Regions from separate parts of the Homo sapiens genome. Here regions 1 and 3 are each linked to region 2. The links come from fine-mapping of genetic effects on gene expression. A gene starts in region 2. Each other region holds a variant in brackets. All regions are shown on one strand. Distances are between the middles of the regions.

Region 1 (10,968 bases), 26 kb after region 2:
CCGGTTGTAACACCCTCCCATCTTTCCCAGACGACTGTTGGGAAAGTCTGTAGAAACAACATTTAAGAAAGTGATTTAAAGAGAGAGAGACACAGATAAGAGAGAGAAAGAGCATGTACGTAGAGGATTAATTACATAATTGGGTTTATTAATTTATTCAATAAACCTTGATCTGGTCCTTCCCGATGCGTTCCAGGCATTGGAGATGCACAAGTCTGTGAGACAGAGCTCCATCTCTTAAGGATCAGTGGAGAGACAGGTGCTTGTGCACACAAGTGTTCTCATATATACAATTGTGCACACATGTATGCGGAACACTGAGATAGGTGCCGAGATGCACAGAAAGCGCCCTGAGGATGATTACATTACTGCTTTTATTATTCAGCCTAGAAGGTCAGCGTGAAATTGGGTTCAGGAGGCTAGATATTAGCATGTATTACTCCAATTCAGAGCGATAACTACATTTATAATAAACAGGTTTTCTAAATGTGGTAGGAAAATGTACTCTGGAAAAATGCTGAATGTTTGTGTTGGCTCCAGACTTCGTCTAAACAGGTTACGGATTTACGGTGGCACAGACTTTTTCAAGCAATATCAAGTTGAGGTGATTTAATGATGCTTAAAAATTATGAAAGTTCGGGGACGCAAAGAGCCCATGTTTCCAGTGCATTGTTCATAAGCTGAAAGGACATATATTGTTGGCATTAATTGTACATTAAAAATTTTGTATAGTCACTTAGATGCACTTTGCTCTCTTTGCTTTTTCTTATTAAGGCAGAGTTCACACACCATAAAGTTCACCATGGAAAGTGTATAATGTAGTTGTTTTAGTATAGTCACAAGATTGTACAGACTAATTCCAGAACATTCCATCAGCTGAAAAATAAACCCCATAGCCATTAGCAGTCACTCCCCATGCCCCTTTCCTCCTAACACTGGCAACCAGTAATTTTCTTTCCTTATAAAATTGCCTATTCTGGGCCAGGCGTGGTGGCTCACACCGGTAATCCTGGCACATTGGGAGGCCGAGACGGGAGGAGGATCACGAGGTCAGGAGATCGAGACCATCCTGGCCAACATGGTGAAACCCCGTCTCTACTAAAATACAAAAAATTAGCTGGGCGTGGTGGCACACACCTGTAGTCCCAGCTATGAGGAGGCAGAGGCAGGAGAATCGCTTGAACCCAGGAGGTGGAGGTTGCAGTGAGCCGAGATTGCGCCACCGCACTCCAGCCTGTTGACAGAGCGAGACTCTGTCCAAAAAAAAAAAAAAAAAATTGCCTATTCTGGACATTCCGCATAAATGCAGTCATGTACTGTGTTGTCTTTTGTGTCTGACTTCTTTCACCTATAGCGTGTTTTCAAGGCTCATTCATGTTATAGCATCTATCAGTACTTCATTCCTTTTTGTGCTGAGTAATAGTCAGTTATAAGGATACACCACATTTTGTTTATGCATTCATCAGTTGATGAACATTTGGGTTGTTTTCACTTTTTGGCTATTGTGACTAATGCTGCTGTAAGTATTCTTGTATGAGTTTTTGTATAGATGTGTGGTTTCATTCCCTCTGAGTGTATACCTAGGAGGAGAACTGCTGGGTCGTATGGTAACTCTATATTCAACATTTTGAGGAACCACCACACTTTTTCAAAGTGGCCACACCATTTTACAATCCTGCTAGCAACGTATGATAATCCTATTTCTCTGCATTCCTACCAACACTTGCCATGTCTGTCTTTTTTATTTTAGCCATCTTTGTGGGTATGAGGTGGTATCTGCTTGTGGTTTTGATTTACATTTCCCTAATGGCTAATGATGTTGAGTAAATTTTCATAGGCTTATTGGCCATATACATACGTTTTCTTTGGAGAAATGTCTATTCAAGCTCTTTGCCCATTTTTTAATTGGGTTATCTTTTATTTTTGAGTTGAAAGAGTTATTTTTATATATATACCTTATCAGATATATGATTTTTAAAGACTTGTCCCAGTCTGTGGGTTGTCTTTTCAAATGGTATTCTATGAGGCACAAAACATTTTAATTTTGATGAAGTCCAATTTATCTTTTTCTTTTTTTACTCATGCTTTTGGTATCACATAGCTAAGAAATCGTTGTGTAATCCAAAGTCACAAAGATTTACTCCTGTGTTTTCTTCTAAGGGTTTTATAGTTTTAGCTCTCACATTTAGGTCTTTGATCAATTTTCAGTTAATTTTTGAATATGGTGTGATATAGGGGGTCCACCTTCACTCCTTTGCATGTGACTATCCAGTTGACATAGCACTGTTTCTTTCAGCCTGTTCCTTCACCTGTGAGTGTCTTGGCACCCTTGTAAAAAAATCACTTGACTGACTTGTATAAGCTCATGAGCTTATTTGTGTGCTCTATATTCTATATTAATGGAATTTTATTTCATTAATCTATATATCTGTCTTTATGTACCACATTGTGTTGATTGCCGTTGCGTTCTAGCGTAGGAGAGGGGAAATAATTTTTTCTTCAGTCCTCATGAGTTCTTCCTCGGGATGGATCCCCATAACAAGACAAACAAGTTTATTAACATGTCTAGTGCGTGTTATGCGGGAGAGATCTCAATGCAAAGTAACTGAGGGCTTAGAACTCCACTTACGTAACACAAAACACCATATCCAAAAAATGCTGGCAGTACAGTACACTGGAGACTCTCTGTTGTCCCCTTTTGATGGGGTGGCTGACGGGGAGCTACTCTTGCTGCCCAGCATCGTGAGAGTGTATCATTCTGCATGTCACTAGCTAGGAAGTGAGCAGAATTCAAAACTCAAAGTATGGTTTGAATGTGCATTGCTGTCACATTATTGCAAAATCAGAAAATCCTAAGTCAGGGACTGCCTGTATGTGGGAGGAAAACAATGGAGTGAGTTTTGTGAATTGCTCTGGGCTGATAAGGGTCCAGAGACCCCGTGTGTAAAGGAGAATTTATATACTGCCCATATAAATAAAGAAAAGGGAAAGGATAGACAGAGCTTTTTCTCTGTTTGCTGCTGCTTGTTAATTGTCTGCTTTAACTGTCTTCCCAGAAATAATTTTTATGTCAGAGTCATATTTTGGTGTTAACATAGTATCCTGTGATAGTCAATTTTAAATCAGGAAGTATGAGTTCTCCTCCTGTCCCTTTGTTCTTTTTTAAAATTAGTTTGGCTATTCTGGGTCCCTTGTATTTCCATATGAATTTTAAGATTAATTGCCAATTTCTGCAAGAAAAAAAAAGCCATCTTGGATTTTGATAGGGATTGATCTGTACATCAGTTTGGGGAGTGTTGCCATGTTCGTTTGTTAATTCCTCTAATCCATGAACACCAGATGTCTTTTTATTTCTTTCGGTCTTTAATTTGTATCAGTGATGTTTTGTAGTTTTCAGTGAACCATTGTTGCTCTTTAAATTTTGTCCTGAGTGTTTTTATTCTTTTCAATAGTATTGCAAATTAAATTGCTCTCTTAATTTCATTTCTGAATTGTTCATTGCTAGTTTTTACAAATTATTTTTGATAATTGATCTTCTGTCCTGCAACCTTGCCAAACTCATTACGAGCTCTAATGATTGTTTTGTGGATTCCTTAGGATTTTCTTGATATAAGAACAAGTCATCTGTAAATAGAGGTAGTTCTACTTCTTCCTCTCCAATCTGGATATCTTTCATTTCTTTTTCTTACCTATTTGTTGACAGAAAGAGTCAAGCTCTGTAAAATATTTGAAGACATTTATTCTGAGCCAAATGTGAGTGACCATGGCCCGTGACACAGCCCTCAGGAGGTCCTGAGAACATGTGCCCAAGGTGGTTGGGTGCAGCTTGGTTTTATACACTTTAGGGAGGCATCAGACATCAATCAGATACGTTTAATAGATACATTGGTTTGGTCCCAAAAGGCAGGGACAAGGTGGGGAGGGTTCCAGCTTATAGGTAGATTTTAAATTTTTCTTGTTGAAAATTGGCTGAGTTTGTCTAAAGAACTGGGTTCAATAGGAAGGAATGTCTGGGTTAAGATAAAGGGTGGTGGAGACTAAAGTTCATTACTGCAGAGGAAGCCTTCAGATAGTAGGCTTCAGAGAGAATAGATTGTAAACGTTTCTTATCAGACTTAAAGACTGTGTTGATGTTAATGCTGGAGGGTATAATGAGGCATGTCTGACCCCCACATCCCGTCATGGTCTGAACCAGTCTTCAGGTTAAATTTTAGAGTGCCCTGGCTGAGGAGGAAGTCCATTCAGATGGTTGGAGAGCCTTAGAATTTTATTTTTGGTTTACAGTCTGTGGAATGATGTTGAAAAGAAGTCAAAGAGTAGACTTCTTTGTCTTTTTTCTTTACTTAGGGGGAAAGCTTTTGGTCTTCACCGCTGAGTACGACGTTAGCTGTGAGGTTTTTAGTATGACTTTCATCAATATGAGGAAGTTTCCTTCCATTTCAAGCTTGCTGAGTTTTTATCATGGAAAGGTGTTGGAATTTGCAAATGCTTTCTCTGCATCTATTTTGAGATGATTGTGTGGTTTTCTTTGTTCTGTTACCATGCTGTAATTTACATTGATTGATTTTTCACAGGTTGACATTTCATTCCTGGGATAAATCCCAAGCATGGTTGTATCTTGCTGGATTTGGTTTGCTGGTATTTTGTTGAGAATTTTGGTGTCATATTCATAAGGAATATTGGTCTGTTGTATTAAGCCATTCTTGCATTGCTATAAAGAAATACGTGGCCAGGC[G/A]TGGTGGCTCATGCTTGTAATCCCAGCACTTTGGGAGGCCAAGGCGGATGGATTACTTGAGGTCAGGAGTTCGAGACCAGTCTGGCCAACATGGTGAAACCCCATCTCTACCAAAAATACAAAAATTAGCTGGGCATGGTGGCAGGTGCCTGTAATCTCAGCTACTTAGGAGGCTGAGGCAGGAGAATCACTTGAACCTGGGAGGTAGAGGTTGCAGTGAGCCAATATCATGCGACTGCACTCCATCCTGGGCAGCAGAGTGAGACTCTGTCTCAAAAAAAAAAAAAAAAAAAAAGATGTGAGACTGGGTAATTTATCAGAAAAGAGATTTAATTGGTTCATGGTTCTGCAGGCTGTACAGAAAGTATAGCACTGGCATCTGTTTCTGGGGAGGCTTTAGGAAGCTTAGAATCATAGCAGAAAGCCAAAAGGGAACAGGCGTTTCACATGGTGGGAGCAGGAGAAAGAGTCAGGGGGAAGGTGCCACACACTTTTAAATGACCAGATCTCACAAGAACTCACTCAGTATTGCTGTCCTGAAGACAGCACCAAGCTGCGAGGGATCTGCCACAGTGATCCAAACACCCCTACCAGGCCCCGCCTCCAGCACTGGGTGTTACAGTTCAACATGAGGTTTGGGTGGGGACAAATACTCAAACTATATCCGTTGTTTTCTTGAGATGTTTTGGTTTTGCTATCAGGGTAGTACTCACCTAAGATGAGCTGGAAAGTGTATTCTTTTCTATTTTTTGAAAGAGTTCATGAAGGATTGTTGTTCATTTTTGCTTTAACATTTGTTAGAATTCTCCACTAAGTGTCTGGTCCTTAGGAAGGGGTGTGTGTGTATGTGTGTGTGTAAAGTATTTTTGATTACTAATTTAGTTTCTTTTTCTTTCTTTTCTTTTCTTTTTTTTTTTTTTTTTGAGATGGAGTTTCGCTGTTGTTGTCCAGGCTGGAGTGCAATGGCACAGTCTTGGCTCACTGCAACCTCTGCCTCCCAGCTCAAGCAAATCTCCTGCCTCAGCCTCCTGAGTATCTGGGACTACAAGCACCCGCCCCCACACCCGGCAAATTTTTTTGTATTTTTTGTAGAGATAGGGTTTCACCATGTTGGTCAGGCTGGTCTTGAACTCCTGACCTCAGGTGATCCACCCACCTCGGCCTCCCAAAGAGCTGGCATTACAGGCGTGAGCCACCGCGCCTGGCCACTAATTTAGTTTCTTTACTCGTTACAGGTATATTCAGATTTTCTATTTCTGTTTGAGTCAGTTTCTGTAGTTTGTGTCTTTCTAAAACTTGTCGTTCTAAAAATTTGTTTCTTTTATGTAGGCTACTTAATTTGTTGGCATAAAATTGTTCATAGTATTCCTTTGTAATCCTTTTTATTTATGTAAGGCTAATAGTAGTAATGTCCCTCCTTTCTTGATTTTAGCAATTTCAATTTTCTTTCTTATTTTCTTCGCCAGTCTAGCTAAAGGTGTATTAGTTTTGTTGATCTTATCAAGGAACCTACTTTTAGTTTCATTGATTTTTCTCTATTGTTTTCCATCTTTTATTTTTTAAGCTGCCTTCTTATATATAAGCAGTTCCCAAAGTGTGTTTTGGGAACCCTCAGGGGTCCTTGAAGTAAAAATGAGTGCAGTGTTCATTTGCCTTCCACACTCTGATTTCCTCACGAATGTATATTGGAGTTTTCCAGTGGTCCCATGACTTATCAAATTGCAACAGATTGCAGGTAGAAACAGAGATGAGAATCCTGTTTAATATAAGCCAGATGAGAGATAAGCTGGCTTATATTAAGCCAGACATTTTAAAGTTTGCAAAACTCTAAAACAATGCCATTCTTTTTTTTTAAAATCGGGTCTTGGTGTGTTGCCCAGGCTGGACTCGAACTCCTGGGCTCAGTTGATCCTCTGATCTCAGTCTCCCCAGTAGCTGGGATTATAGGCACATTCCACCACATCCAGCCTTTTCACTATTTTTAGTTTATTTGTTTTGGAAAATATAGTTATTTTTTATGAAAAAGTACTAACAGTAACATATCTTGCTCTTTTAAAATGAATTAATAAATATTTTTACAATTCTCAGTTTAAATTTCTGATTCTAAGTATTAAAAGATATAATCTCTTTAGGGTCCTCAGTAATTTTTAAGAATATAAAGAAGCCTCAAGGCTGGGCGTGGTAGCTCACTCCTATAATTTCACTGCTTTGGGAGGCTGAGTTGGGAGGATCACTTGAGGCTAGGAGTTCGAGACCAGCCTGAGCAACACAGCAAGGTCCTGTCTCTACAGAAAAATAAAAAAAAATTAGCATGGTGGCTCATGCCTGTATTCCTAGCTACTTGGGAGGCTGAGGAGAGAGGATTACTTGAGCCCAGGAATTTGAGATTGCGGTGAGCTATGATTGTACCACTGTACACCACCCTGGGTGACAGAATGAGACCCCTGTCTCTTATAAAAAAATGTCTTCAAGTCAAACATTTTAAAGCTGCTGTTATATATTACCTCATCAAATCTTTAAAATAATCCTATGGGTTAGATACTCCTATTTGTAGCTAAACAAAATGGAAGAGATAAATAATTCATTCACAATTTTAGAGGTAGGGGCTGAGATTTAAAACCAAATTTTTAATATTCCAAAGTTTATATGCATTACAGTGAATACCTAATTATTCACATTTTCTTCTTTTTCCACACTCTCATTTCTTAGGATTTAAAACAAGCTAATGAGTCTTTAAGATGAGTGTATTTTCTGGGTATTGTGTGGTGAAATGTTAGCTGCTGTGTGACTTTTCTCCAGCTGTGATGACCCTTTGGTATTCCCTCTACAGAAAGATGTGTCATGGCAATGCTGAGAAGGAGGATCAGGGATGAGAAGACCAACGTTAGGAAGTCTGCACTGCAGGTGGGAGTTTTCTCTGCACATTTTTTTTTTTAAGCACTAAAAACTTGGAAATGCAAAGGAATATTTTTTAAACTCTTAGGCCATATTCATTACTTAATTTGCTTTTCGCCTAACTGTTAGTTGACCCTGATCCTGTTGTATATGAATCATAGACGAACTGGAAGATTTTTTATTTTTAAGCTTTCCTACAGGGTTTCTGATTTTTTTAAGAACCACAAATTTATATCCTGAATTTGTTTAGAATAGGGATTCTTAACCTAGGGACCATGGGTGGATTTTAATAGGTTCATAAAATAGTTTGTAAATATTTGTTTATATAAAATTTGTTTTTCTCTGAGAGAGGCCTTAGCAAATTGGATTCTGAAAAATGGGATGTTGTGAGGAGGAAGGTTGGATCCATGACCCCAAAATGTTAAGAACCACAAACTTAAAGGAAGTGTTCCTTTGTTAACAGTTTATCTTTGTGAGTTGATGCTATGCAGTTAACAGTTCATGTTGCGTCTATGCCTTCTAGGTATTAGTGAGTATTTTGAAACACTGTGATGTCTCAGGCATGAAGGAAGACCTGTGGATTCTGCAGGACCAGTGTCGGGACCCTGCAGTGTCTGTCCGGAAGCAGGCCCTCCAGTCTCTTACTGAACTCCTTATGGTGAGAGGCAGGACATTATATATGTAATGCATGGTATTTTACATTAAAAGTAATTCCACACAATAATTACCTGCTGCTAAACGTTAAGTTGACCTTTAAAAACTCTACTAAGTCCACTGTAGAACTGTACAATGTAAGGGAGGAGGTATTTTTGAATTATGTGTGATAGACTGTGCTTCCTATTAAACATAATTAGGAACTAATGCTAGAGAATGCCAATTGTTAGCCCTTTCTTCACTTTATTGTTATTATTATTATTTTTGAGACAGAGTCCTGCTCTGTTTCTCAGGCTTAGAGTGCAGTGGCACAATCTCAGCTCACTGCAACTTCTGCCTCTCAGGTTCAAGCAACTCTCCTGCCTCAGCCTCCTGTGTAGCTGGGACTACAGGCAGGTGCTGCCATGCCTGGCTAATTTTTGTATTTTTAGTAGAGACAGGGTTTCACTATGTTGGCCAGGCTGGTCTTGAACTCCTGACCTCAGGTGACCCGCCTGCCTTGGCCTCCCAAAGTGCTGGGATTACAGGCATGAGTGACTGCACCCGGCCCTTTTCTTCACTTTAAATCTCACACAGAAAAATAAAATTTAAAATTGATTTGGTTAAGCTAGAGGCCTAGATTAAATTTAGTCAATTAGGGCATAGATAGATGATATTGCCAAAAAAGCAGACTCACAAGTACTATATTTAATTTACTTTTGTTTACTAGTTAGCATTTTAGTCAAAGAATTTTAGAAGTATGTTTATTTCTTTATTTCATAATAGAAGGCATTAAGCAATGCATATTTTGACTTTTTCTGTCAGCATCTGTTCTAATTGCTCTTTGGGATATTTATTATTTGCTCTTGATTTTTAATGACCAAAAAAGTACTGATTTACTAGTAGCTACTAGTAAAATAGTGACTTTAATGTATGAGTTTAAAATTTTGGTTTGCAGTGATTTACATTAAGCTGGCTTTGCTTTTGTATATTTTTTGAATTTTTTTCTTTTTTCACTCTATGGTCTATTTGCAGTTGAAGGTGTGATTATTTTTAACATCTCAAAATGTTGATCACAACTTCCCTGACTTGTATTTAGACCTTCTCATGTCATAATCTTTCACTCCTAAGGCTCAGCCTAGATGCGTGCAGATCCAGAAAGCCTGGTTGCGGGGGGTGGTCCCGGTGGTGATGGACTGCGAGAGCACTGTGCAGGAGAAGGCCCTGGAGTTCCTGGACCAGCTGCTGCTGCAGAACATCCGGCATCACAGTCATTTTCACTCTGGGGACGACAGCCAGGTCCTCGCCTGGGCGCTTCTTACTCTCCTCACCACCGAAAGCCAGGAACTGAGGTAGGTTAACTGTATGACCTGTGTTCCCTATAGAAGAAGGCCGTAGGACTTTGTATTAATAAATTTCTCCTATTGGTCCTCGAAAAATCAGCTTTCCAGATTACTTAGTGTATGTGAAGATTAAGTATTGGTCTCTCTTTCCCTGACTGACTTCCAATCTCTTAGATATTTTTATCGCCTGTATGTTTGTGACACCTGTTTGGTCACTTCCTTTGCATCTGTCTGACGCTTTCCAGTTTCAGATTTTGGTGTCTTCATATGTAGTAGACAACACTGATGGAGATACATATTAATATCACCTTTCCCCAATACTGGTTATCACGAAGGATGACTTCCTAGCTCCTGCAAGTTAAACTGTTTTTAACACCTCATTGGATTAATTGACTTAACTAACACTGCAGGCTTTTTCCCCTTTGATAACACTTATTGAACATACACTGTACAGTGAATATTGTAGTTAGGAGTTAGGATCTGTGATGGAGGAATCATCATGCGGTAGAAAGAAAATAGATTTAGTATCAAAAAATACCATTCTGCAGCCTTGGCAAAAATCACTTTCTCTGAGCCTTAGTTTCCTGATTTGTAAGAGCAGCCGTTGTACTCTAGGATCTCTTCATGGTTTTCTCAGTACAGGTTGAGCATCCGTAATCCAAAAATCTAAAATCCAAACATGCTCTGGAAGCTGAAACTTTCTGAATGTCAGCATGATGCCACAAGTGGAAAATCTCACACCTGACCGCATGAGACGGGTCACAGTGAGAATGCAGGCTCACAGCATACAGTCTGTTCAGCATCCGCAGGCGAAAAATAAAATCACCTTCCGGCTGTGCATACAAGGTGTATATGAGACTTTGGTTCCATCCCCAAGATATCTCATTAAGTATATGCAGATATTCCAGAATCCAAAACACTTCTGGTCCCAAGCATTTCAGATGAGTGATACTCAACCTCTACCCACCCTATGCTTTCCTGAGATTTCTAGAATGGAGAGATTTAGCTAATAATAGAGTCTACTGCTTTTTCACTTTTCTTAGAGATACCTCCTTATGCATGCTCTATGTATTAATTCATGTTAATGTAATGAAAGGTAGTAGTCATTCTTTGCAAAAAAGCAGGAGAGGCCTTCTACAGCTCCTGAGAAGCTGTTGGGAGGTTTTAAAATTTATTTTTCTTTATAAAAACTTTTGTATTGAAGTATAGCATGTCTAGAAAAGTACACAAACCATAAGGTCAGTAAATATCACAAAGAGAGTATGCCTGTGTAACCACCATGCAATCTCTGTTTATCATTGTAGGTGATAGCCACCTCTGCCCAAGTTGGCTAATACTTGAAAAAAAGTGGCCCAGAACTCA
Region 2 (9,663 bases):
CAACACTAATTATTATTATGGAGCCAAAGAATCAATGCAATAACTTTAAAACTGCTACTAAAAAATACCTTGCTCAATAGGCAAGGATTTCTCGACTATTTACTATGCGTAGCATAATATGCTTTGGACTCATCCTGTTTATCCTGGGGTTCTTTGCTAGAGATGATTTTACCCTCCAGAGGATATACAGCAATATCTGAAGACATTTTTGTGGTCGCAAGTGGGGGATGCTACTGTTGTCTGGTCAGTAGAGGCTGGGAATGCTGCTAAACATCCCATGACAACATGCCAAACGATGCCAGACATCACAGTGCTGCTACTGAGGAACCTTGCCATCTACCCCACCATTGAACCCAGAAGCAGGAAAGCAGAAGGCATGGAACTCACTCTTCGGCCCCTTTTCTGGTACACTAAGACCTTTCATATTCTGGCTTTAAAATAACAACAAAGAGCTTCCTGTAAGATCAGCCAGTCTTCAACCTGATTTCATGTTCTTAAATACCAGAGGCAAAATGCTTGAGGCTGAGCAGTGAACCCAAGAGCCAGGCCACAAGGCCTCCTTTTCCCAGGGTTTCTCCTACCTGTGTCTCCGTGTTTCCTGCCTCTGTGAAAAAAAGACGGCAAATTCTTTGCTAAACTCTCAGGATAAGAGAGTTTAACAAAGATTCCCCAAGGAAGTCTCTAAAAACAGAGTTATGTATGCAGTGTGTGGTATCGGTATGGATTCTCTACCAGAGGTGTGTAGCTCACAGGGTATTTACTGTGATTCTACTCCTAACCTAACGACAAAAACAACTTATTTTAAAAGTACCCAAGCATTTTAATAATACACAAGAGTCTAAATAAGGCTTAGAATTGGAGACGACCCAGTCTTGACTGGGAGCTCCCCAAATCACTTTACCATTACTGCCTTTTACTGTCTAGTTCTTATTTGTTTATTTGTTTATTTTTTTGAGACAGGGTCTTGCTGGTTGTCACCCAGGCTGGAGTGCTGTGGTGTTATCACAGCTCACTGCTGCCTGGAACTCCTGGGTTCAAACAATCCTCCCATCTTAGCCCCCCGAGGAGCTAGGACTACCGGCAAGCACCACCACGACCAGCTAATTACAAAAAAATTTTTGGGGGTAGAGGCAGGTCTTGCTATATTGCCCAGGCTGGTCTCCAACTCCTGGCCTCAAGCAATCCTCCCACTTCAGCCTCTCAAAGTGCTGGGATTGTAGGCATCAGCCACTGTGCCTGGCGCTGTCTAGTTCCAATGATTAATAATCATGTTTAAAGCATTGAGAAACTCTGATCACTTAATTGTGGTTTTTAGAAACACCATTTCTTTGTCTTTAAACAGAAAATGTGGTAACTGAAAACTTGCATTCTAATAAAGAAGTCTAAGAAACGCAGCCTAGGTAGTCAGATTTAGACTGAAGATTATGGGTCTTCTTTCTGGAAACATGTACAAGCATAGGTAGTTCAGGGCTGAGGTGAGGTAAGAGAGAACTGGTTAGCTCTCTCACACCACATCTAAAGAGAAAAACGGGTTGGTGCGGGCTCTGGGAAGTGGGGCTCGGTGGACGAGCCTCACTTTGCGTCTGGCAGTTGCAGATGGCCGGGCGATGGGAAAGCCAGTATTGGCAGAGCGGTCTCCCCCTAACAAACCCACCTGCAGGCTATGGCCAGAGCACCTCACCCAGAAATCCTGGGGACAAGAAGCAAAGCCGAGTGCATGCCGGAGACAATGGGGAGAACCCATAGGCAAGGTGCCCATCCCACGAGGCACAGCAGGGCGCTTCCTCCCGCCCTCGCCGTCCCCATCTCCCTGGCAGCGCGCTGTCACTTTTGGCAGGGAGGACAGTAACGCAGGGGGAGTCGCCCACGGGCGGGACTTGTAGCTGAACCCCAGGCCTCAGACTGCAGTTGACAAGCGACTGTGACAGGCCTCGCCGGAGGAGCTGGGCCCTGAATCACCCTGCTCCCCGGCCGGCTGTCGGCGCTGGGGGAGGGGGTCCCGGGGGTCGACTCACCGATCTGCCCGATGAACTCGATCTTGATGCCCTGGTGCTCCAGCCGCTTGTTGGGGTTCTTGAGGGCAAGGCTCACCTTCCCGGAGACCGTCTCCCCGTCGTAGAAGAGGAAATATTTCTCCTTCTTCCCGTCCTCCGTCTTGTGCTCGGCCCGCTTCCTACTCTCTGCATCGTTCAGAAGGATTTCCACCTCCACGCTCTGCCCGAAGCCGAAGAAGCTCATCGCACCGCCGGGCCGGGCGGGTCTCGGTAAGGACCGCTCCCTCGCACCGGGGCGCGGGCTGCCCTAGGTAAAGAAGGCCAGAGGGCCCGATGCGCGAGCGCGCTCGGCCGCCGCGGGGCTGCCTGGCTCCGCCGCTGCCGCCGGGCAGTGGGCGCCGACGGACAGCCGGCTCCACGGGGGAGGGGCACGGCCGGGGGAGGCTGGCGGCTGCGGGCTGCGGCGCCCGAGCAGCAATGCACCGAGGAGCAGTGCCCTCGGCCGAGCCAGTCCCAGCCAGTCCCGCGGCCGGTGGCAGTGGGCGGGCGAGGGTCGGCCGTGCAATGCTGCGGGGGGCAGCCGCACAGAGCCGGGTGTGGGTGGCCTGCGCCTGCCGGGTGGGGTCCAGCGCCGAGCAGCGCTGCGAGCTGCCCAGCCTCCGGCGGTGCAACGCACCGAGGCGCTTCGGCGGCTCCGGGCGGGGGAGGGGGCGGGCGAGCTCCAGCCCGGATGCGCTGGAGCAGCGGCGCGCAGGCGCACCCCCTAACGCTCCTGGGACTCCCGGCAGCCCGGAGGAGAGCTCGCTGCGCATGCGCAGGGAGAGCGCGGCCGGCGCTCCAGCGGTCGGCATGGCAGCTGCTACCTCGCTGGGACAGGCTCTGGGCCCACGCGTGCCGCGCAGTCCCTACAGAACTGCAGTTGTCTTGTCTTCTCGGAGTGCTTTCGGCTACTTTTCCCTTATTACTTTAGCTCGATACACGTTGGGCTGCCTTTCACATTCGGATATTACGCTGTTCGAGTGCTGACGGGAAAGGCAGCCCTTTGACACGCACGCGAAATGTCGCCTGACGAGGGCAAAGGTGACAGTTACTACCGGAAGTACCCTATCTCAGATACCCTTTAGATTTTCCCCCATTGAAGAAAAACGAGGCGGGAAAAACGCTGTTAGGGTTTAACTCAGGCCCTGGCTCCTTCTCGAACGAATTAGCGGAACACCCGCAGGAGCCTTGTTTGGCTTCCACTTTTCGGCCCGCCCAGTTCTCTGAGCGTGCGGCGGACGACGCCGGTGATTGGTTGAGCGAATGGAAACGGCTCGGCGCGGTGGTTGGCCAGTGGGAAATTCTGTACGTTGTGATTGGTCCACAGGAACGACTCGGCGCGCGCGCGGGAGCGAGCTTTGAAAGTTGAGCACGGCGGCGGCGAGCCGGTGCCCTGGGATCATGGTGGCGTTGCGGGGCCTTGGTAGCGGCCTGCAGCCCTGGTGTCCGCTGGATCTTAGACTCGGTGAGCAGATGCAGCCGGGAGGCCCGGGGGCCAGGGCGAGGGTCCTATGCGTCCCCGACGATGCCTAAGCCCGGGCCGGGGTGCCGGTGGGGGCGGGGTGGGGGCGCCCGGCTGTCGGCGGTGCCTGGGGTCCCCAGGGCCGTGCCACGCCAGGATTGCGGCTAGCCAGGTTTCCCGTGGGGGCTCAAGCCGGCCAGGCCACCCTTAGAATAAGCGAATGTTGGCCAGTCTCTTCTAGCGCCTGTGCATCTGTTTTCTCGGCCTTCCCCTTCTTCCTGTGCGTGTCTTCGTGCACCTATCTATTCTTACCTATTAAGATGGTTTTAAATTGCAAATCTCTTTCTTCCGCCAGACTTATTTCTTGAACTTCATGTTCATAGGTTCCACTGGATGTCTCACATGCAGACATCATCAAACGTCACATGAGTGAAAATGGGATTCCCAAAGCCTGCTAATGGCACCATCCAAGCCACCAACCCAGGAGTCATGGCATTTCTGCTTCCCCTTTCATGCCCACTACCACTGTCCTGCCTCTGAGGTGTCTCAGGGCAGCCCCGCTCCATTCCTGATGCTGCTGCCTTCATCATAGCCTCGAGCAATTGCAGGAGTATTTTAGCTGCTTTCTGATGTTAACTGTGCCAGCCCATCCCCCACACTTTTGCAGAACGACTTTTGAAAACACAGCTTTGAATGTGTCAAGCCTGTACACCTTTAATGTTTCCCCTTTGTTTCCTAAATAAATGACCACATCCTTGGCATGCTTTATAAGAGCTGCCATTCTCTCCAGTTTGATTTTCCAAGAGCATAACCTTTGGAGTCGGACACACTTGGATTGTTCCCTTGGCTCTACCCCATAGCATCCATGTATTACCGTGCAGGTTGTTTATCCTTGCTAAACCCCTGTTTTCTGATCTGTCAAATGGGGAGTACAATATCTACCTCACAGGGGTTTTTGTAAAGATAAATTTGTACTTGCCACATAATAACTGCTGAACAGATACTAATACCCACAAGCAAACACTGTAACAATTTTGTTCATTTAGAAACACTTTAATTTCTTTCCCTTTGTGTGCTTTGTTACACTGTGCTTGCTGGGAGGCACTTTTCTGCATTTATTTGCCTGGCAAAACTCTTACATTCAGGTCCAATTGAAGAATCATCTTATTCCTCTCCCTCCTCCCCCAGTACTATTCCCTATTAAGCTCTGTAGCATTTTACATTTTACATATCTATTATTTTAACACTCATCCATAGCAAAAATAATAAATACCATCTATTGACTGTTTTTTATGTGGCTAGCACATTGTTAGGGCCTTTATACACATTATGTTTCACAAAAATCCTGTATTTCCAATGATGAAGGAGAGACTAATTATGTGTAAGTGATCAAGTCAGGATATTTGCCTCGTTCTGACTCAAAATTCAGTGGCCTCTCTTCTATCATAGGCTGCTTTTTTTGGTATCCTAAGTGTGAAATGTTGAGATCTTTGTGGACAAGAACCCTCTAGTATTCATCTTTATATCCCTAGAAGTATAAGTGGCTTCCCTAGTATTTTCTCAAAGTGTTTGTTGAGTGAATAGGTGATGTATTTCTTCCTCTTCTTCCATCCTAAGTGAAGTAGCAGAGCAGAAGTTACCTGCATTCGACAGCTGAGAAAATAGGTAGTGAGAGATTTGAATAGTGTAAAGATACTGAGGGAAAAAGACTAACTCAGTGTCTCCTATACTCTCACTCAACAATCAACACTGAAGACTTCTGTGACCAAATGGTAGATAACAGGGCCAGTTACTGCCATCCAAATTAGATTTGATGGTATTTACAGTAGGGAACTGTCATAAGCAAAACCAAAAGAAGGAGTGAGATAACTTTTGCTGTGGTCTATAATGACCTTTAAAACATTACTGGAAATTTGGAAAGAAACAATTGTATTTTTCAGATCTTCTTTCAGGCAGCATATTCCATGTCTTTGGAAGGAATGCTGTGCATAGCCACTTAGGGTACAGAGACCCCCTCCTTCAGGGTCAAGTTCAAGTGACAAAAGATGATGACCAGATTGTATTCTAAGGATGGAACTAGTTGAGTGTAAGGCCTTTCATTTTCATTTGCCGAGTGCAGTGTAATGCTCCCATCTCTGTTTTTTCCTTATTTATACCTTGCCCAACTTCTCTAAATCAGTGGTGAACAAATACTTTTAATATTAATTTGAAGGAACACCTGATTAATAATTTGAGATGTCCACATTTCCATCTAGTCCTAATTTTAGTTTGGGAAAGTGACAATGACAACACTGAAGAAATATAGTGTATTAGAAAAGAATGGGAAGGGGGGATGGAGGGATAGGGGAGGGATACCATTAGGAGAAATACCTAATGTAGATGACGGGTTGATGGGTACAGCAAACCACCATGGTACGTGTATACCTATGTAACAAACCTGCATGTTGTGCACATGTACCCAAAAACTTTAAGTTAAAAAAAAAAGTTTATCCAAAAAAAAAAGAAAAAGAAAAGAATGGGAAGATTTAGAGTTAAGAGAGATTGGTGGAATCCAGCCAGCGTGCTGTCTTAATACCCCTCCTCTCAATGTACATTCTTTCAATCAGTGTGTTTTAAAGTCACCAAGTATTCCTGGGAGTCTGAATCTGGGTTGCCTCTTCTATTTTAAACTTCCTGGAGAAATTATATATGTTTTTTAAATGCTACATGATTGTCCAAGGGCCCAATAAAGTGCTCTATATTTTATTTCCACTTATTAACTTGGTTATGATATTTTCACAAAGGAACCTCGTGGGCAATCTGATTAACCTCTGTTTCTTCTCTAGATTGAACATGTGGGAAAGCCTGATCACTGAATGTTTTGAAGTGTCCTTTCCCAAAACTCTTGTATCTGAAAAGTATTTCCTCCTTTATATTTTTAGAAGATGATTAGCTTAATAGTCAGTGTCAGTTGTGATTTAAGATTCTCTTAACCTTTTCTGGTTTTCTTTTATTATGCTACACCTATGTTATTAAAACAAGTTAAATGTGAATCGTGACTAGTAAACTTTTCTCCTCTTGAACACACCTGGAATCTAAAGGTGACTAGTTTTTTTACTTGTTACAGAGTACTTACACATTTCATTGCATTTTCCCCTAGAATGGGTTGACACAGTGTGGGAACTGGATTTCACAGAGACTGAGCCTTTGGATCCCAGCATAGAAGCAGAGATCATAGAGACTGGATTGGCTGCATTCACAAAACTCTATGAAAGCCTTTTACCCTTTGCTACTGGAGAACATGGATCTATGGAGGTAAAAATATAAAAACAAACTAGCCAAAGTTTGGTGTTAGAAGTAGAAGATGAAAGTCATTATTATAATCTGAAGCTTAGCTTTCTTGGTGTACAGTTCACAGGGAGTACAATATGAGTAACATAAAGAATGTGGTTAATTTATTGGAATATCCTAAGAGCTTTCCTCCAAAAGCTTCAAGGTACTTGTCTGATTTTTTTTTTTTAAGACACGACTGTTTTTTACAATAGCAAATTAAAGGAAAAGTATAAGGCCGGGTGTGGTGTCTTACGTCTGTAATCCCAGCACTTTGAGAGGCTGAGGCTGGCCAGTTGCTTGAGCTCAGGAGTTTGAGACTAGCCTGGGCAACATGGCAAAACCCCATCTCAGAAGGAAAAAAAAAAAGGAAAAATATAAAGGCAAAAACAAGAAAACTAGACCAAGGAAAATGCAAATAACAATTCAGACATGCCTTAACCTTAACTTTAAGAAAATCTGCGACCAGGCATGGTGGCTCATGCCTGTAATCCCAGTACTTTGGGAGGCCGAGGTGGGTGGATCACGAAGTCAGGAGTTCAAGACCAGCCTGACCAAGATGGTGAAACCCCATCTCTACTAAAAATACAAAAATTAGCCGGTTGTGGTGGCGGGCTTCTGTAATCCCAGCTACTCGAGAGGCTGGGGCAGATAATTGCTTGAACCCAGGAGGCGGAGGTTACAGTGAGCCGAGATCACGCCACTGCACTCCAGCCTGGGCGACAGAGCAAGACTCTGTCTCACAAAAAAAGAAAATCTGATATTATTAAACTGAGGAATGACTAGTTGAATTAACAGGTTTGTCCAAACAGTTCCTGTAAATATTGAGTTCTATCCAATGCATAGAAATATAAATTATTATTAATATTTAGGTTGTTAGTTTTCAAAAAAAACCAAAGGGTTGGGAAACAGAACAAAAGCTAATTGGATATTAACATCTCTGAAACATTTAAATGAACAAAAAAAAATTCACTTCCAAGTTTCACATCACAAAATTAAATCATCTAATTAAACATTCCTTCAGCATAACACTAAGCACTGCCTTAAGTACCTGAGTTGACAGAGTGGGGATTACGATACAATCTCCCTAGGTTGAGGTCCTCCCCAGGGACCTCAGGGAGGAAGAGTGGACATTTGAACACTAGCCAAAGTAGGTCTAGCAGCCACATGCAGTTGCAGGGGGTGGAGAGTTCAGTGCCACTGTGCATTTGGGCGCCTGGAAATATTCTACGAACCACACTGTGAAAAATGCTCCAAGAGAGGTGCGGATTTGTTGCATAGGGTGTGAAAAAGGGAGCATGGTAGGGTTGGGAAAGTTCCAGAAAGAAAGTGGCCAGCAGCGAATCTTCACAGATGACTAGCAGAAGCTTGGGTTGTAAGGCAGTCCTAGTGAAGGAGCCACCCAATGGGAACACGCAGGAAGTGTCAAGAGGCATACAGAAAAAGTGTGGTGGAACGGGATGGTAAGGTAGAGTAAGGGTAGGTCACGGGTAGCTTTACGTGAGGTTCAGCAGTGGAGTTTGAACATGTTTGGTAGAGTGTGTATGAGGTTTTGTTCTAAGCGTCCTGCATGTATTAACTCATTTAATCCTCAAGCAGCCTGTGTGAAAGAGGTTACAGTGGGCAATAGATAGGTAACATGAATAGATCTGTTTTAAGCAGACGTTCTTGACAGTAGGTGGACTGAAGTGGGAAAAATTGTGTGCAGGGAGAGCCCTTGGGAGACTGTATTGGTGATCCAGGTGTTATGAGTAATAATGGCATGATCCGGAGTTACAATTTTGGGAACTGGAAAGGAAGACTAAAAACTAGGGACATTTTTGGAATTAGAATTAATAGGGCCTTGTGAACTAGGAAGCCCTTTTGAGATATCTTAAAAACATGGTGTGAAGTGCTAAACTGACTGGGCATAGGGAATTAGAAAAAGAAAGAAGTCAGTGATCCCCAGGGTTTCAAAACTAGGAAGATGATGATATTGTTAACCAAGGTGGGGAATAAGGGAAAAAGAGCAAGGTCAAATGGAGAAACAGTTCTGTTTAGACTTCTGAACTTGAGATTCTGTCAGGAGATCCTTGGGAAGTTTAACAGGTAGTAGAAATGTGAGACCAGGAGAGAGAAGAGAGTTCTTTAAATTGAGGTATGGGTTGAAGCACAGTGATGCATGAGATCACCGAGGGTGAGAAGCAGCCAGGACAGAAATGGAGAGCTGATTGGACGGGGTCTGCAGAGGAGCAGTCACATGTAGGGAGTGCAGGGTCACTGACGCCCAGACTAGACAGCAGCCATGGGATCACATGGGGCCAAGGTGACCCCATATGCAGAGCCCTGGTGAGCAGATGGTTTAGGGTGATCGATCACCCTCGTGTGTGAAGTGGAGGTGCAGGTGGCATTAGGAATGAGGATGTGACACTGTAAAGTTAGGAGATGATTTCTTCCCCCCCCCCCCTTTTTTTTTTTTGAGACCAGGGTCTTGCTCTGTCACCCAGGCTGGAATGCAGTGGCACAGTCAAAGCTTACTGCAGCCTCAACTTATTGGGCTCACATGAGCCTCCCACCTCACCCTCCTGAGTAGCTGGGACTACAGGTGTGTGCCACCACGCCCAGCTAATTTTTTATTTTTTGTGGAGACAAGGTCTTGCTTTGTTGCCCTGGCTGTTCTCAAACTCCTGGGCTCAAGCAGTCCTCCTGCCCTGGCCTCTCAAAGTGCTGGGATTACAGGCATGAGCCATTGTGCCCAGTGGAGATGATTTCTCCCGTAAGTTTTTTAGTTAAGGAAAGGAGAGTGCTCTGCTCACTTGAATTTTGTGGGCCTTTTTTTGTTACGATACTCAAGGATAAACCATATTTAGTTCCTGCTAT
Region 3 (10,650 bases), 75 kb after region 2:
GGAGCCCTTGAGGAAGCAGTCTCGTGTCCTCCGTGTGAAGGCAGCTGGATCACTTCCCGCAGTCCTTGGGCAGCGCTTTGCTGTGGAACACGAGAGCTCCTCCTCAGGGGCCTGGCACTCACCTTCTATTCTGTATGATGTATTTGGTTAAACACTGTCAAATAATAGAGATGTGCCAGATTTAGATTTTCTTACCCTAATCTGTTTAATATTGTAACTTTATTCCATTTGAAAGTGTCAAGCCCATTCAGATAAGCTATAATCTGGTCTTTAAGGAACACAACTTTAAAACTGCAGCTTTCTTTTATATAAATCAAGCCTCTGTTAACTTGAATTCCTTATAGTACATATTTTCCCATCTGTAATGACGAAATTTTGATTCTAATATTTTTTCTATTATTTATAAGTGCAAATTTTTTAAAAAAGTGTACAGCTTTCTAAAAGTAATAAAGGTTTAGCATAAATACAGCCTTCCAGTAGTCAATAGGATTTTTCTGTTTTTAGAACAGAGCTCTTATTGGTAATCATTTTAATTTTACATAAAGCATGTTTGTTTGTTAGAGGAATGAAACCAAATCTTCCCTATTAGAAAAAAGATGATTGTCTTGAAGGGCAGTTCATCTGTGCCCAGGCAGAGGCGGTGTGCTTTCCCTAACAGACATGAACAGCATCCCTTCTTGGGAAAAAATGGCTTTGCAGCCTTCCCCAGAGCAGCACTGCCGATTTGTGCAGCCCTCTGTTAAGGGCTGCTCCCATGATGGGGGAACAGCTTGAGTCTCTTCTGTTAGCACTAGTGGGTAAACTGAATGCTATTTTTGTTCAACAATATCCAGAAAGAAATGCAGTTGGTTTGTTTTTTAATCCCAGTATTACAAAAGCAAAAGTACAAAGTGATGATGTGCGTTGGTTGGTTTGGGGGATGGGATGCCACTGAGATCTGCCCACTGCCATCCCAAGTGGGAACCGCAACACAGGTGGGCTCGGTGGCGGAGAGGCGCAGCACTGCTCTTGAGCACACAGGCTGACCTCCTGCCCAGCACTGACTTCCCTGGTGGATGGGTGATTGATAGCATTTTTAGTGTGCATGCCTAACCACTGAAATGCTAGGAAGAAGAGACAAACCCAACGTAAGAGCAAATAACAAAGAATGAAGCAATGTTTGGGTTTTTTTGAAGCTTTTATAAATGAGGTTAAACAAATGCCAAATTACGGTGTGTTAGTACAAGTCTGTAGCATCTGTGTACAGCAACATCCATCCAAAGGCAGAATCACAGCCTCGTATCGGCCTCGAGTCTTGAGTCACATTCATATCTTAAAATACACGAGTATTCCTTTTCCGTCTAGTCTCAGTTATAGGCAGCTACTTCCCAGACTCTACTTTCACTTCTCTCTACTTTTTCAGACCTGGTTCCCATGGCACTAGTGTAGAAGGTTTTAGGGTATAAGAAGAGGGGGCAATAAGGCTACCCTATCACTATGACAACCAAGAAGGAGGCTGGAGCGTGAATCCCCAACGCTGAGGGTGGGGAGCCATCCCTCTCTACCAAGGTGGCAATGATGGAGGGAACTTGCATGCTAAGCATCCAGGATGCCATGCAGCAGACACCAGGGAGCACTGAGCCACTGCTGGAGCATTTCCTGCCTCTGCCAGGCGGCCTGCGGCAAAGTGTTTCACATAACTAAAAAAAGTCAACACAGTCTCATGTATGCAATTAAAAAAAAGCTGTCAAAGTATAAAAAACCCAAGACACTGGAAGCTGAAAGACAAGGTGAGTAGTGAGAGCCATTCTCCAGGCACACAGTGGAGTGCTCCTTCTCAGCAGCTCCTTGCTTTACAGCACTTCAGTCCTGAGTCCAGCACGGCAGGGCATGTGAGGCTGAGAACACCTGCTCTTGAAGAACACAGGCTTCTGAGTGATGTTGCTAATGTCCCCCCACAAATGGGAGCAGTGTCTCCGGCGGATGAAAAATTTAAAGTCAAAATTAGAAAACTGCTTTTGATTCAGGCGTTTCACTTTCCTCCCCGCCAGGCCTTTCACCTGGCTGCTCCACCTGACGTTCTTTAAAAGGCTGGACTGGCCGCCACTCCATCATGGTTTGTTTTGAAATGCGACAGAGCCTGTGGCGTCTGGGTGCTTTCTCTGTGGCAAAGAGGAACAGTGGGATCCATTTTCTTTTAAAAATGTTATTGTACTTGACAGACTTGATTTCGCAATTGCCTTTGGCCTTAGACAATCTTAACAAATAATTAAACAAACTTAAAAAAAAAAAATAGCATTGGGGGCCCTATTTTGTGAGCCATCCATAACCAAAAAGAGGTCTGTTACAGGAGCCCAAAGCTGGGACGCTACATGGAAGACACCAGTGTCCCTGCAGTGCCCACCTGAGAGCTGTGCTGGATGAAGCAAGGGCCACGTGAGTAAAGCTCACTGGGACACAGCCACTGCCAGGGCCCAAGGATGGCAGGGCCTCCTGGCAGACAGCGAGGCAACAGTGAGCTAGAGCGGGGGCGCCTGGCGCAACCCCAGGAGCTGACTGGCATCTGTGTATGTACATCTGAGGGCTTCTGGGTGGCCTCTGGGTACAGACTGTCCTAGTCATCTCAGGAAGAGGCAGTTCAAAGCTAACCTGAGAGGTTTCTTTTGAAGAGATGCAAACTGATTTCAACATTGCTTAACTGGAATTTTTAAAGGTTTCCTAAGCAACTATGGTCTGATGTGTAGACAGTATGAGTTCCCTTGTGAAAAAGGCTAAAACTTGTGTGAGAAAAGGAACATCACAGTAAACTTCCATGAGAGGATTCCTTGGGTAAAATACTCTTAATTATTGATATTTTCCAATTTAACACTAGTAGCTTGGAACTTCTACCTTAAGTTGAACTTTTTTAAAAAAATAGGTTATTTAACATTGTATGACAATATATTTACAGTTTAAATAGAAATTTTCTTTTCAATAATCAAAATACATCCTTAGCAAAAATTTAGATGTAAAATTTTATAAAATAAACAAGACCCATAGAAAAGCATATTTCAGTACCATTTCAGACTTAGCCTAAGACGAAGGTTTTCCTTAAATCCTGACACCCTGTTGGACAAGCAGGGTTCCTCAGGCAAGATCCCTCTTCCAGCAACCAATTTACCTTCCTGATTTTGGTTGTTTTTACAAAATGCTGATCCAAAAAGCTTCTCCACAATGGACACTGCAACACCGATCAGCAGAGCCTTTAAGAAGAAACTGCGGTGGTGTCTGTGGGCCGATGAAGTAAGGCTGCTGTGTAAGAAGCCTTTTCTGGGTTCCCGCCGGGATGCGCTGCTGGTGCTGTCCAGCCACCTCGCCATCTCACATGGTGCTGTCGTGGCTGCTGAACGACCAGTGGTGAACATGCTGGCTTCACAGGGCCCAGCACGGGCGTTTACGTGAGCAAACTCTTTAAGATCACCCTAATACTCATGCGGGAATCAGGCCAGAAACAGATTAGGAACCCAACTCAGTGAACGCACCCAGTTTCGCTTCCTTGTGGTTATATTTACCGGGTCCATCTTGAGGAAAATTCTTCTATTCATGTGGCTTGTTAGAGTAAGAAGAGTAGTGGTCAACTTTGGCCAAAACGAAAAGCTTCTGAATGAGTGTCTAGCTCTGTCCGAGTGCATCAGCTCTCGCTGCCTTGACAGGAGTTTCTAGCAGAGGTATGTGCACGTGCGCTCTGTGCGCTCTCAGCCACACCGCGGGTCTCAGATCACAAACGATGACTTGTGTCTGAAGTCGCCCTGCAAAGCCAACACACAGTTAGAGCCATCAAGGGGCCTGGTGGCAAGCAGGGAAAAACACGGAGTAAGTCTAACATGGGCTAAATACAGATGGAATAATCATTCTTAAAAAGTACCATCACTAGCGCTTGCAAAGCACAAATCCCATTAGTGTGTGTGTGTGTGTGTGTGTGTGTGTGTGTGTGTGTGTTACTGTGAAGGGGCTGAGGAGCTCAGGAGCTGCACAATCACTCAGAAATCTTCCCAGGAGACCCGTGTGGTTTCCAAGGGGGAATGTTGTTTTCCCTGCTGGGTACACCTAGGTTTCCAGGTTTACTAAATGATTACCTCCTCGTCAGTGCGGATGTAGTTAACTCCATCTGGTTTCCCTGGGTTCTTGTAACTATGAGGAGAAGAGAGCAGTTTAGCAACAGGGTTGTTATATTATTGCCAGCTTGAACTTCCCTTTTTTCACATAAGGCAGGCTCACCTTTCTCCATCCTGTTTATTGTTGATGAAGTAGCCACGTCTGTATGCACAGCAGATGCCCAACGTGATCAGGGCCAGTACAGCAAGGACAACCAGAACCCCCCCAATAATTCCGCCAATGTTCAGGTCATCTGAAGAAAAGGAGGTTTGGTGGAAGCCATGATACACACTATCTGTTATTTAAAAAGGCCCTGGCCCTGCTGTGCCTCCTTCCTTCACCCCAAACCCACTTGCCCCCTGCCCCCTCAGGCCTACCCCAGCTAGAAGAGAGAACACTTACAATCCTTCTAGCCTAGAACATATAGGACACCATAACTCCTAACTTCACACGTGAAAAGTACTGAGACTTCTACAGTTGAAATGCAGTCGCACTGAAAAGTGTATTAAAGTGGGCTTGGCACTGTAGGCTTAAAAATCCTCTGGCTGAATGCCTGAGATTACTTATGGAGGAAATGGTTATGAGGACAAGATTAGGAGCCAGGATCCCAAGAAGAAAAGAATCCCTAATTTCCAGGGCCTCCCTTTGTTGCAGATTGCTGCGGGGAAGAAAGGTAGCTTCAAGCCTTAAAGAATCTGTCTCAAAAAACAAACAAGTAAAGAATCCTAGGTAAGAACTAGAGCTTTGTCTCTGCCGGCTGCCTGACCTCCGATCTATAAGCCCTCTGAGAGGAAACCCCCTGGAACCCTTTTCTCATGTCTATACACTGGGCAAAGGCACTGGGTCACTTTCATATGGGGCTCTGGCAGCCGTTCCTTCAAGCAAGCGACACATGGAAAACTATGCAGGGAATTTATCAACAAGAGCCAAGTAACTTGGAAGTTTTAAAAAAATCTCCTTTATCCTAGTGTATTGGTTCTCAAAGATGAATGTACACTTAAAAATCAACTTGCAGGCCGGGCGCGGTGGCTCACGCCTGTAATCCCAGCACTTTGGGAGGCCGAGGTGGGCAGATCACGAGGTCAG[A/GA]GATTCGAGACCATCCTGGCTAAGGTGGTGAAACCCCGTCTCTACTAGAAACACAAAAAATTGGCTGAGCGTGTTGGCAGGTGCCTGTAGTCCCAGCTACTCAGGAGGCTGAGGCAGGAGAAAGGTGTGAACCCGGGAGGCGGAGCTTGCAGTGAGCCGAGATTGTGCCACTGCACTCCAGCCTGGGTGACAGAGCGAGACTCCATCTCAAAAACAAAAAGTAAACTTGCAATCGTTTTTTTTTTTTTTTTTTTGAGACAGAGTCTTGCTCCGTCACCGTCACCCAGGCTGGAGTTCTGTGGTGCAATCTCGGCTCACTGCAAGCTCCGCCTCCCGGGTTCAAGGGATCCTTCTGCCTCAGCCTCCCAAGTTACTGGGACTACAGGCGCCTGCCACCACACCAGGCTAATTTTTGTATTTTTAGTAGACACAGAGTTTTGGCATGTTGGCCAGGCTGGTCTTGAACTCCTGACCTCAGGTGATCCACCCGCCTCAGCCTCCCAGAGTGCTAGGATTATAGTGTGAGCCACCACGCCTGGCATGCAATTTTGATGTTAAAATGTCAATTCCCAAGTTTCATCACTAAAAAGTCAATAGGCTAAAGTAGGTCTGGGGCAAAACTGCAGGAGAAAACAACCCTAGAGCAGAGTTTCTCAAACGTGACACATGAGAAGAATCCTTCGGAACGCTTGTCTCACACACAGACATTTCTAGCATATGTCTGAGGTGGGCTCGAATCTGTATGTGAAACAGTGGTCCCAAATGGGTATCACCAGGCAGTTTTGGAAAATGCTGCTCTGAGGAGAGCTCCAAATAGGGAGGAGGGAAGGATTCAAAAAATGCTCCTGGCTGGGCACAGTGGCTCATGCCTGTTAATCCCAGCACCTGGGGGAGGCCGAGGCAGGAGGATTGCTTGAGGCCAGGAGTTTGAGACCAGCCTGGGCAACACAGTGAGACCCCGTATCTACAAAAAATAAAATTAGCTGAGCATGGTGGTGTGTGCCTGTTGTTCCAGCTACTCAGGAGACTGAGGTGGGAGAATGGCTTGAAGGCTGGGTTTGAGGATGCAGTGACCTGTGACTGCACTCACTGCACTCCAGCCTGGGCAACAAAGCAAGACCCTGTGGTGTTTTTTGTTTTTTGTTTTTTAAGAAAAAAAAAAGCTCCCCAAGTGATTTGGACACATCCTCTCTGCCCCCACCCTCCTCTCAACGCCCCTCCATTAGGGGAACCAGAGCCCTGAGATAACATTACTCTAGGGGCTAAGCTTTGTCTGCAGGTAAAATTACTCGGGCTAAAACTGTCAGTTTTCTACAAGAGGGTTATAACTGGATAAATTTCTGGAGACCTGACACCACCTTACATTTTGATAATTCTATCAATTACCAAAGAATGGAGTTTACTAAACTTGCAGTGAAAGTTGCAAGGCTGGCCACGTTCCCAACACCAGCAGATCCCAGAAGGTTTTGTTTTGAGGACCTGCTTATCTGGACTCGGTTTTCTCAGCCTTCCCTTCACTGTGCAGTGGGTTCTGGTGGACCTAGGCAGCTCCAGAAGAAAGCTAACCCATGGCGGAAGAGTTCTCTAAGCTGATGGTATAATATTAAATTAAAATGTTCTATTCACTTCCCAGTCTTGCGATGAAACCTCTTCAAAAAAGAAACTCACAGACTTCCATCTCCTGCTCCTCACACCTGGCTGAGCCTGCGTCATTGGAAGCAATGCAGTAGTACTGCCCAGAGTCGTCCTTGTGAACAGCAGTGAACACCTGTTTCAGGGAATGACAAGTAAATAATCGGACCCATCATGGGGCCGATTTCTGAGAGCACAGCCAGCTGGGTCCAGAACTAGGTCGACACCTGCTCGCTTGCTTTCAGCTTCCCCAGCACTGTGCATGTTCCTCCCTGACCCACTCCCTGATACCTGCCTGACAGCTCCCCAACAACCAATCCCCTTGGGACTGGAGACACCAAAGCCTGGCAACATCCGAAATGGGAGGTGGAACCTTGCTTTTATTCTGGTAAAAGGGCTCTTCAATGATGACTGCTCCTGGGGCAACATTTTGGCAAAATGAACACAGAGGACCCTGTTAAAATCTGTCTGATGACTACGTGGAACTGGATGGTCCACAGATCAGAAGGTACCTCCCAGGAGAGAACCACATGCAGTAAAAGCCTGGTGTGGTTTGCTGGCCAGGTCACTTTGTCCTCTAGTGCATGACCAATCTGTTTCCTCTCCTCCCCCACCTCCCACCACCACCACTGGGTTATTTTGAAACAAATTCCAAACACCTTTTATCCATAAATACTTCAGTATCTCTACAAGACTGTAAAAAATCGTAACCACAATACCTTCATCATGCCTAAAGCAATGAACAGTTGCTTAATAGATCATCAAATACCACCTAGTAATCCAATTTCCCCGATTGTCTAATGACTTTTACAGTTGATTATCCGATCAGGGCCCTAGTAACATTTGCTTAATATCCCTCTTCGGTCTCAATCTATGGTTTCTTTCTCTTCCTTATTTTACCCCCTAAGAATGTACTTGTTTATAAAAGGAAGAAGGGTCATTTTTCCTGTAGAATCCCTAACATTCTAGATTTTTGACTCCTGTCTTATCAAGAAGTTTCAGTATCTCTCCTAATCTTCTTTTCACAATAAGCATCTCTTGCCCCAACAAAGACATCTCCATCCTCACCTCTTAGAAGAGATCTTACCAAAGTGCCTGTTTCAGAGTTTAAGTGGAAAGAAGAATTGCGAAATCTGGGATTGGCTCTGGAATCCGTGGGCAGTGGTACATCATTGCGATACCAGCTGTAGTGAGGCCGGGGGTGGCCCTCACTCTCCTGGCAGTGCAGTGTTGCCATCTTGCCTACTGGTACAGCCTTCGGCACTCTACAGACAGGGGTCACTGGCTTCACTGTGGGGAAAAAGGGGTGGTGTTTAAGATCTCAGTGACAGGGCTCTATTCTTATTAAAGCCCAGAAGAAATCAGCTCCAAAGACAAGACAGCCAGTCGAGGGGTTCCCACGCCACTGCTGTTCCCAGGATCACAACTGCAGACTGACAAGCCACCGCTGCATCCTGCCCTCCCATATGTTAAAGCGCCTCCTCTAGCTGGTGGAAGGAAGTGACAGGAACTTCACTTCCCTTCTCACCTTCTACCCCAACTCAGGCAGTCTCAGCTCTCAACAGTTCTCCCCTCCCTAAGCCATGTGAAGCCCTCAGGGATACAGTTCTAGAAGGAAAGAAACCAAGACACTAACTGATCTCTTGCATCCTATGGTGGCAATGTCTCACCTTCGCATGAGCTCCTACCTTGCACAGTTAACTCGATCACAATCTCATCAATTTCCTTGCGGTCATTTCGAGCAACGACCTCACAGCGATAAAGGGCTGAGTCTCTCCGTGTCACATTCCAGATCTTCAGGGATGTCTTCCCCAGTATTTCTGCACGACCCGCCAAGTCTCCTACAGAAAAGACACGAGGCACTAAAAAACTTCTTTAAAGAAATCTTTGCCACTTGAAGAGGGTGGTTTCTGGGGCTAGCACTAGATGCCACAGCAAGGAAGCCTGCAGATCAATATTTATTTCTATTCCCGAGTACAGAAGTGAACTCTCTTGAGGACAGGAACCATGACCTATTCCTATCTGTAACCTAAACACCAAAAATAGTTCCTGGTGTGCAAGACACACTCATTACCATGTGTCTCCGTCATTAAAACCAGGAACTTCACCTCCTCCTCCTCATTTCCAGGAAGGACCGCCCATGAATAGAAAAAAACACCACTAGAAAAACAACCAATGTTTCATAAATGATGCTGAGATAACTTGATATCCACTTGCAAACACATGAAGTTGAACCTCTCTCTCACTCCATATACAACAAAGACCTAACATAGGAGTTAAAACTATAAAACTCTTAGAAAAATGCATAAGCATAAATCCCTCATGACCTTGGATTGGGCAATGGTTTCTTAGATATGACACCAAAAGCACAAGCACACACTAAAAACAGTTACACCGGACTTCATCAAAATTCAAAGGACAAAGGCAGGTGAAAACAATCCACACAATGGGAGAAATACCTGCAAATCGTACATCCAACCTAGCATCCAGAATAAAGAATTCACACTTCAGTAAGAAATAGACAACCTAATTTAAAAACTGGACATAAGGGTGGGTGCAGTGGTGCACACATATAGTCTCAGCTACTCAGAAGGCTGAGGTGGGAGGATTATTTGAGCCTGGGAATTCATGTCCAGCCTGTGCAACACAGTGAGATCCTGTTTCTAGAAAAAAAAATATTTTTAAATGGACATAAAATTTGAACAGACATTTCTCCAAAGAAAATACACAAATAAGACCCTCAACATCATTAGTCACCAGGAAATGCAAATCAAATCCACAAGACGCCGCTTCCAACCCACTAAGATGGCTAGAACTTAACAAGTCAGACAATAACAAGTGTTGGTAAGGATGTGGGAAAATACACTGCTGGTAGGAGTGTAAAATCGTAAAGCAGCTTTGAAAAACACTCTGTCGGTTTTTTAAACAACTAAACATGCAACTACTGTAAGACTCAGCAGTTGTACTCTTGGTCATTTATCCCAGAGAAATGAAAACTTAGGTTCACACAAAAACCTGTAAACAAATACTGATAGCAGCATTACTGATAATAGCCAAAAAGTGGAAACAACCCAAATGTCCATCAATAGAATGGGTAAAATAATGTGGTATATCTACAATGGAACATTATTCAGCCGTGAAAAGAAATGAAGTACGGACACAGGCTACAACACAGATGAACCTTGAAAACAGGATGCTGAGTGAAAGACGTCAGCCATGGAAGACCACAGTTTCTATCCAGTGTCCAGAACAGGCAAATCCACAGAGACAGAAAGTGGAATCAGAGCTGCCAGGGATGCGGGAGGAGGACTGACTACTGCTGGGTACGGGCTTTCTCTGTGGGATGATGAAAATGTTCTGGAATTTGATAGTGGTGATGGTTGCACAACTGTGAGTATATTAAAAACCCCTGAACTGCACACTTTAAAAGGATGCGGTACGAATTACAGCTCCATAAAAAAACATTTTAAACATAAGACATAATAACACTTTCAAAGAAGCAGGAAGAACCTGGAAAACAACAAATAGGGGAAGGAGTTAGGAAAACATGACACAAAAGAGTAGCAACTACTCATCGCTAAACCTGACAACTGCTGACAAGGACATGAAGGGCTTGCCATAATACACTAAAAACAGCACACTAAAAGATGCTTCCGATGGAGCACAGACGTTGGCAACAACATTTTCGAATGGGAAGCTTTGTTATACACCCACCCATTAGTGGAGGATTCGAACCTTTACCATGTGAGAAAAGAGTAAATAAACCCCACCAGGGTGCCTCTGGTGCAGCCCTGCACTGAGGCGAGGAAAGAGGCCAAG

The links. PIP is the estimated chance that this variant, and not a neighbour inherited with it, causes the effect.
Region 1: its variant is the best candidate, but not a certain one, in a credible set for the expression of NCAPD3 in whole blood (INTERVAL, PIP 0.62).
Region 3: its variant is the best candidate, but not a certain one, in a credible set for the expression of NCAPD3 in monocytes (BLUEPRINT, PIP 0.83).

What each region holds. Positions count from the first base shown.
Region 1 is chr11:134,191,336-134,202,303 of GRCh38, reverse strand. It overlaps NCAPD3 (non-SMC condensin II complex subunit D3), which reads left to right. Exons shown (of 35, transcript NM_015261.3): 14 at 7,566-7,639; 15 at 8,154-8,288; 16 at 9,395-9,615. Among named protein-coding and RNA genes, the nearest start is that of NCAPD3, 27 kb to the left of the region's middle. RefSeq lists a silencer at 4,014-4,214. The variant G/A (reference allele first, on the strand shown) is at 4,736.
Region 2 is chr11:134,217,698-134,227,360 of GRCh38, reverse strand. NCAPD3 (non-SMC condensin II complex subunit D3) reads left to right here and starts at 3,394. Exons shown (of 35, transcript NM_015261.3): 1 at 3,394-3,498; 2 at 6,635-6,789. The coding sequence starts at 3,435. It overlaps VPS26B (VPS26 retromer complex component B), which reads right to left and starts at 2,690. Exons shown (of 6, transcript NM_052875.5): 1 at 2,016-2,690. The coding sequence starts at 2,238. RefSeq lists enhancers at 1,804-1,953, 2,054-2,113, 2,904-2,953 and a silencer at 2,314-2,783.
Region 3 is chr11:134,142,263-134,152,912 of GRCh38, reverse strand. It overlaps JAM3 (junctional adhesion molecule 3), which reads right to left. Exons shown (of 9, transcript NM_032801.5): 4 at 8,520-8,672; 5 at 7,919-8,121; 6 at 6,868-6,967; 7 at 4,237-4,366; 8 at 4,095-4,149; 9 at 912-3,767. The coding sequence ends at 3,732. It overlaps NCAPD3 (non-SMC condensin II complex subunit D3), which reads left to right. Exons shown (of 35, transcript NM_015261.3): 35 at 1-2,800. SNORD153 (small nucleolar RNA, C/D box 153) reads left to right here and starts at 1,550; the gene lies at 1,550-1,625. The variant A/GA (reference allele first, on the strand shown) is at 5,200.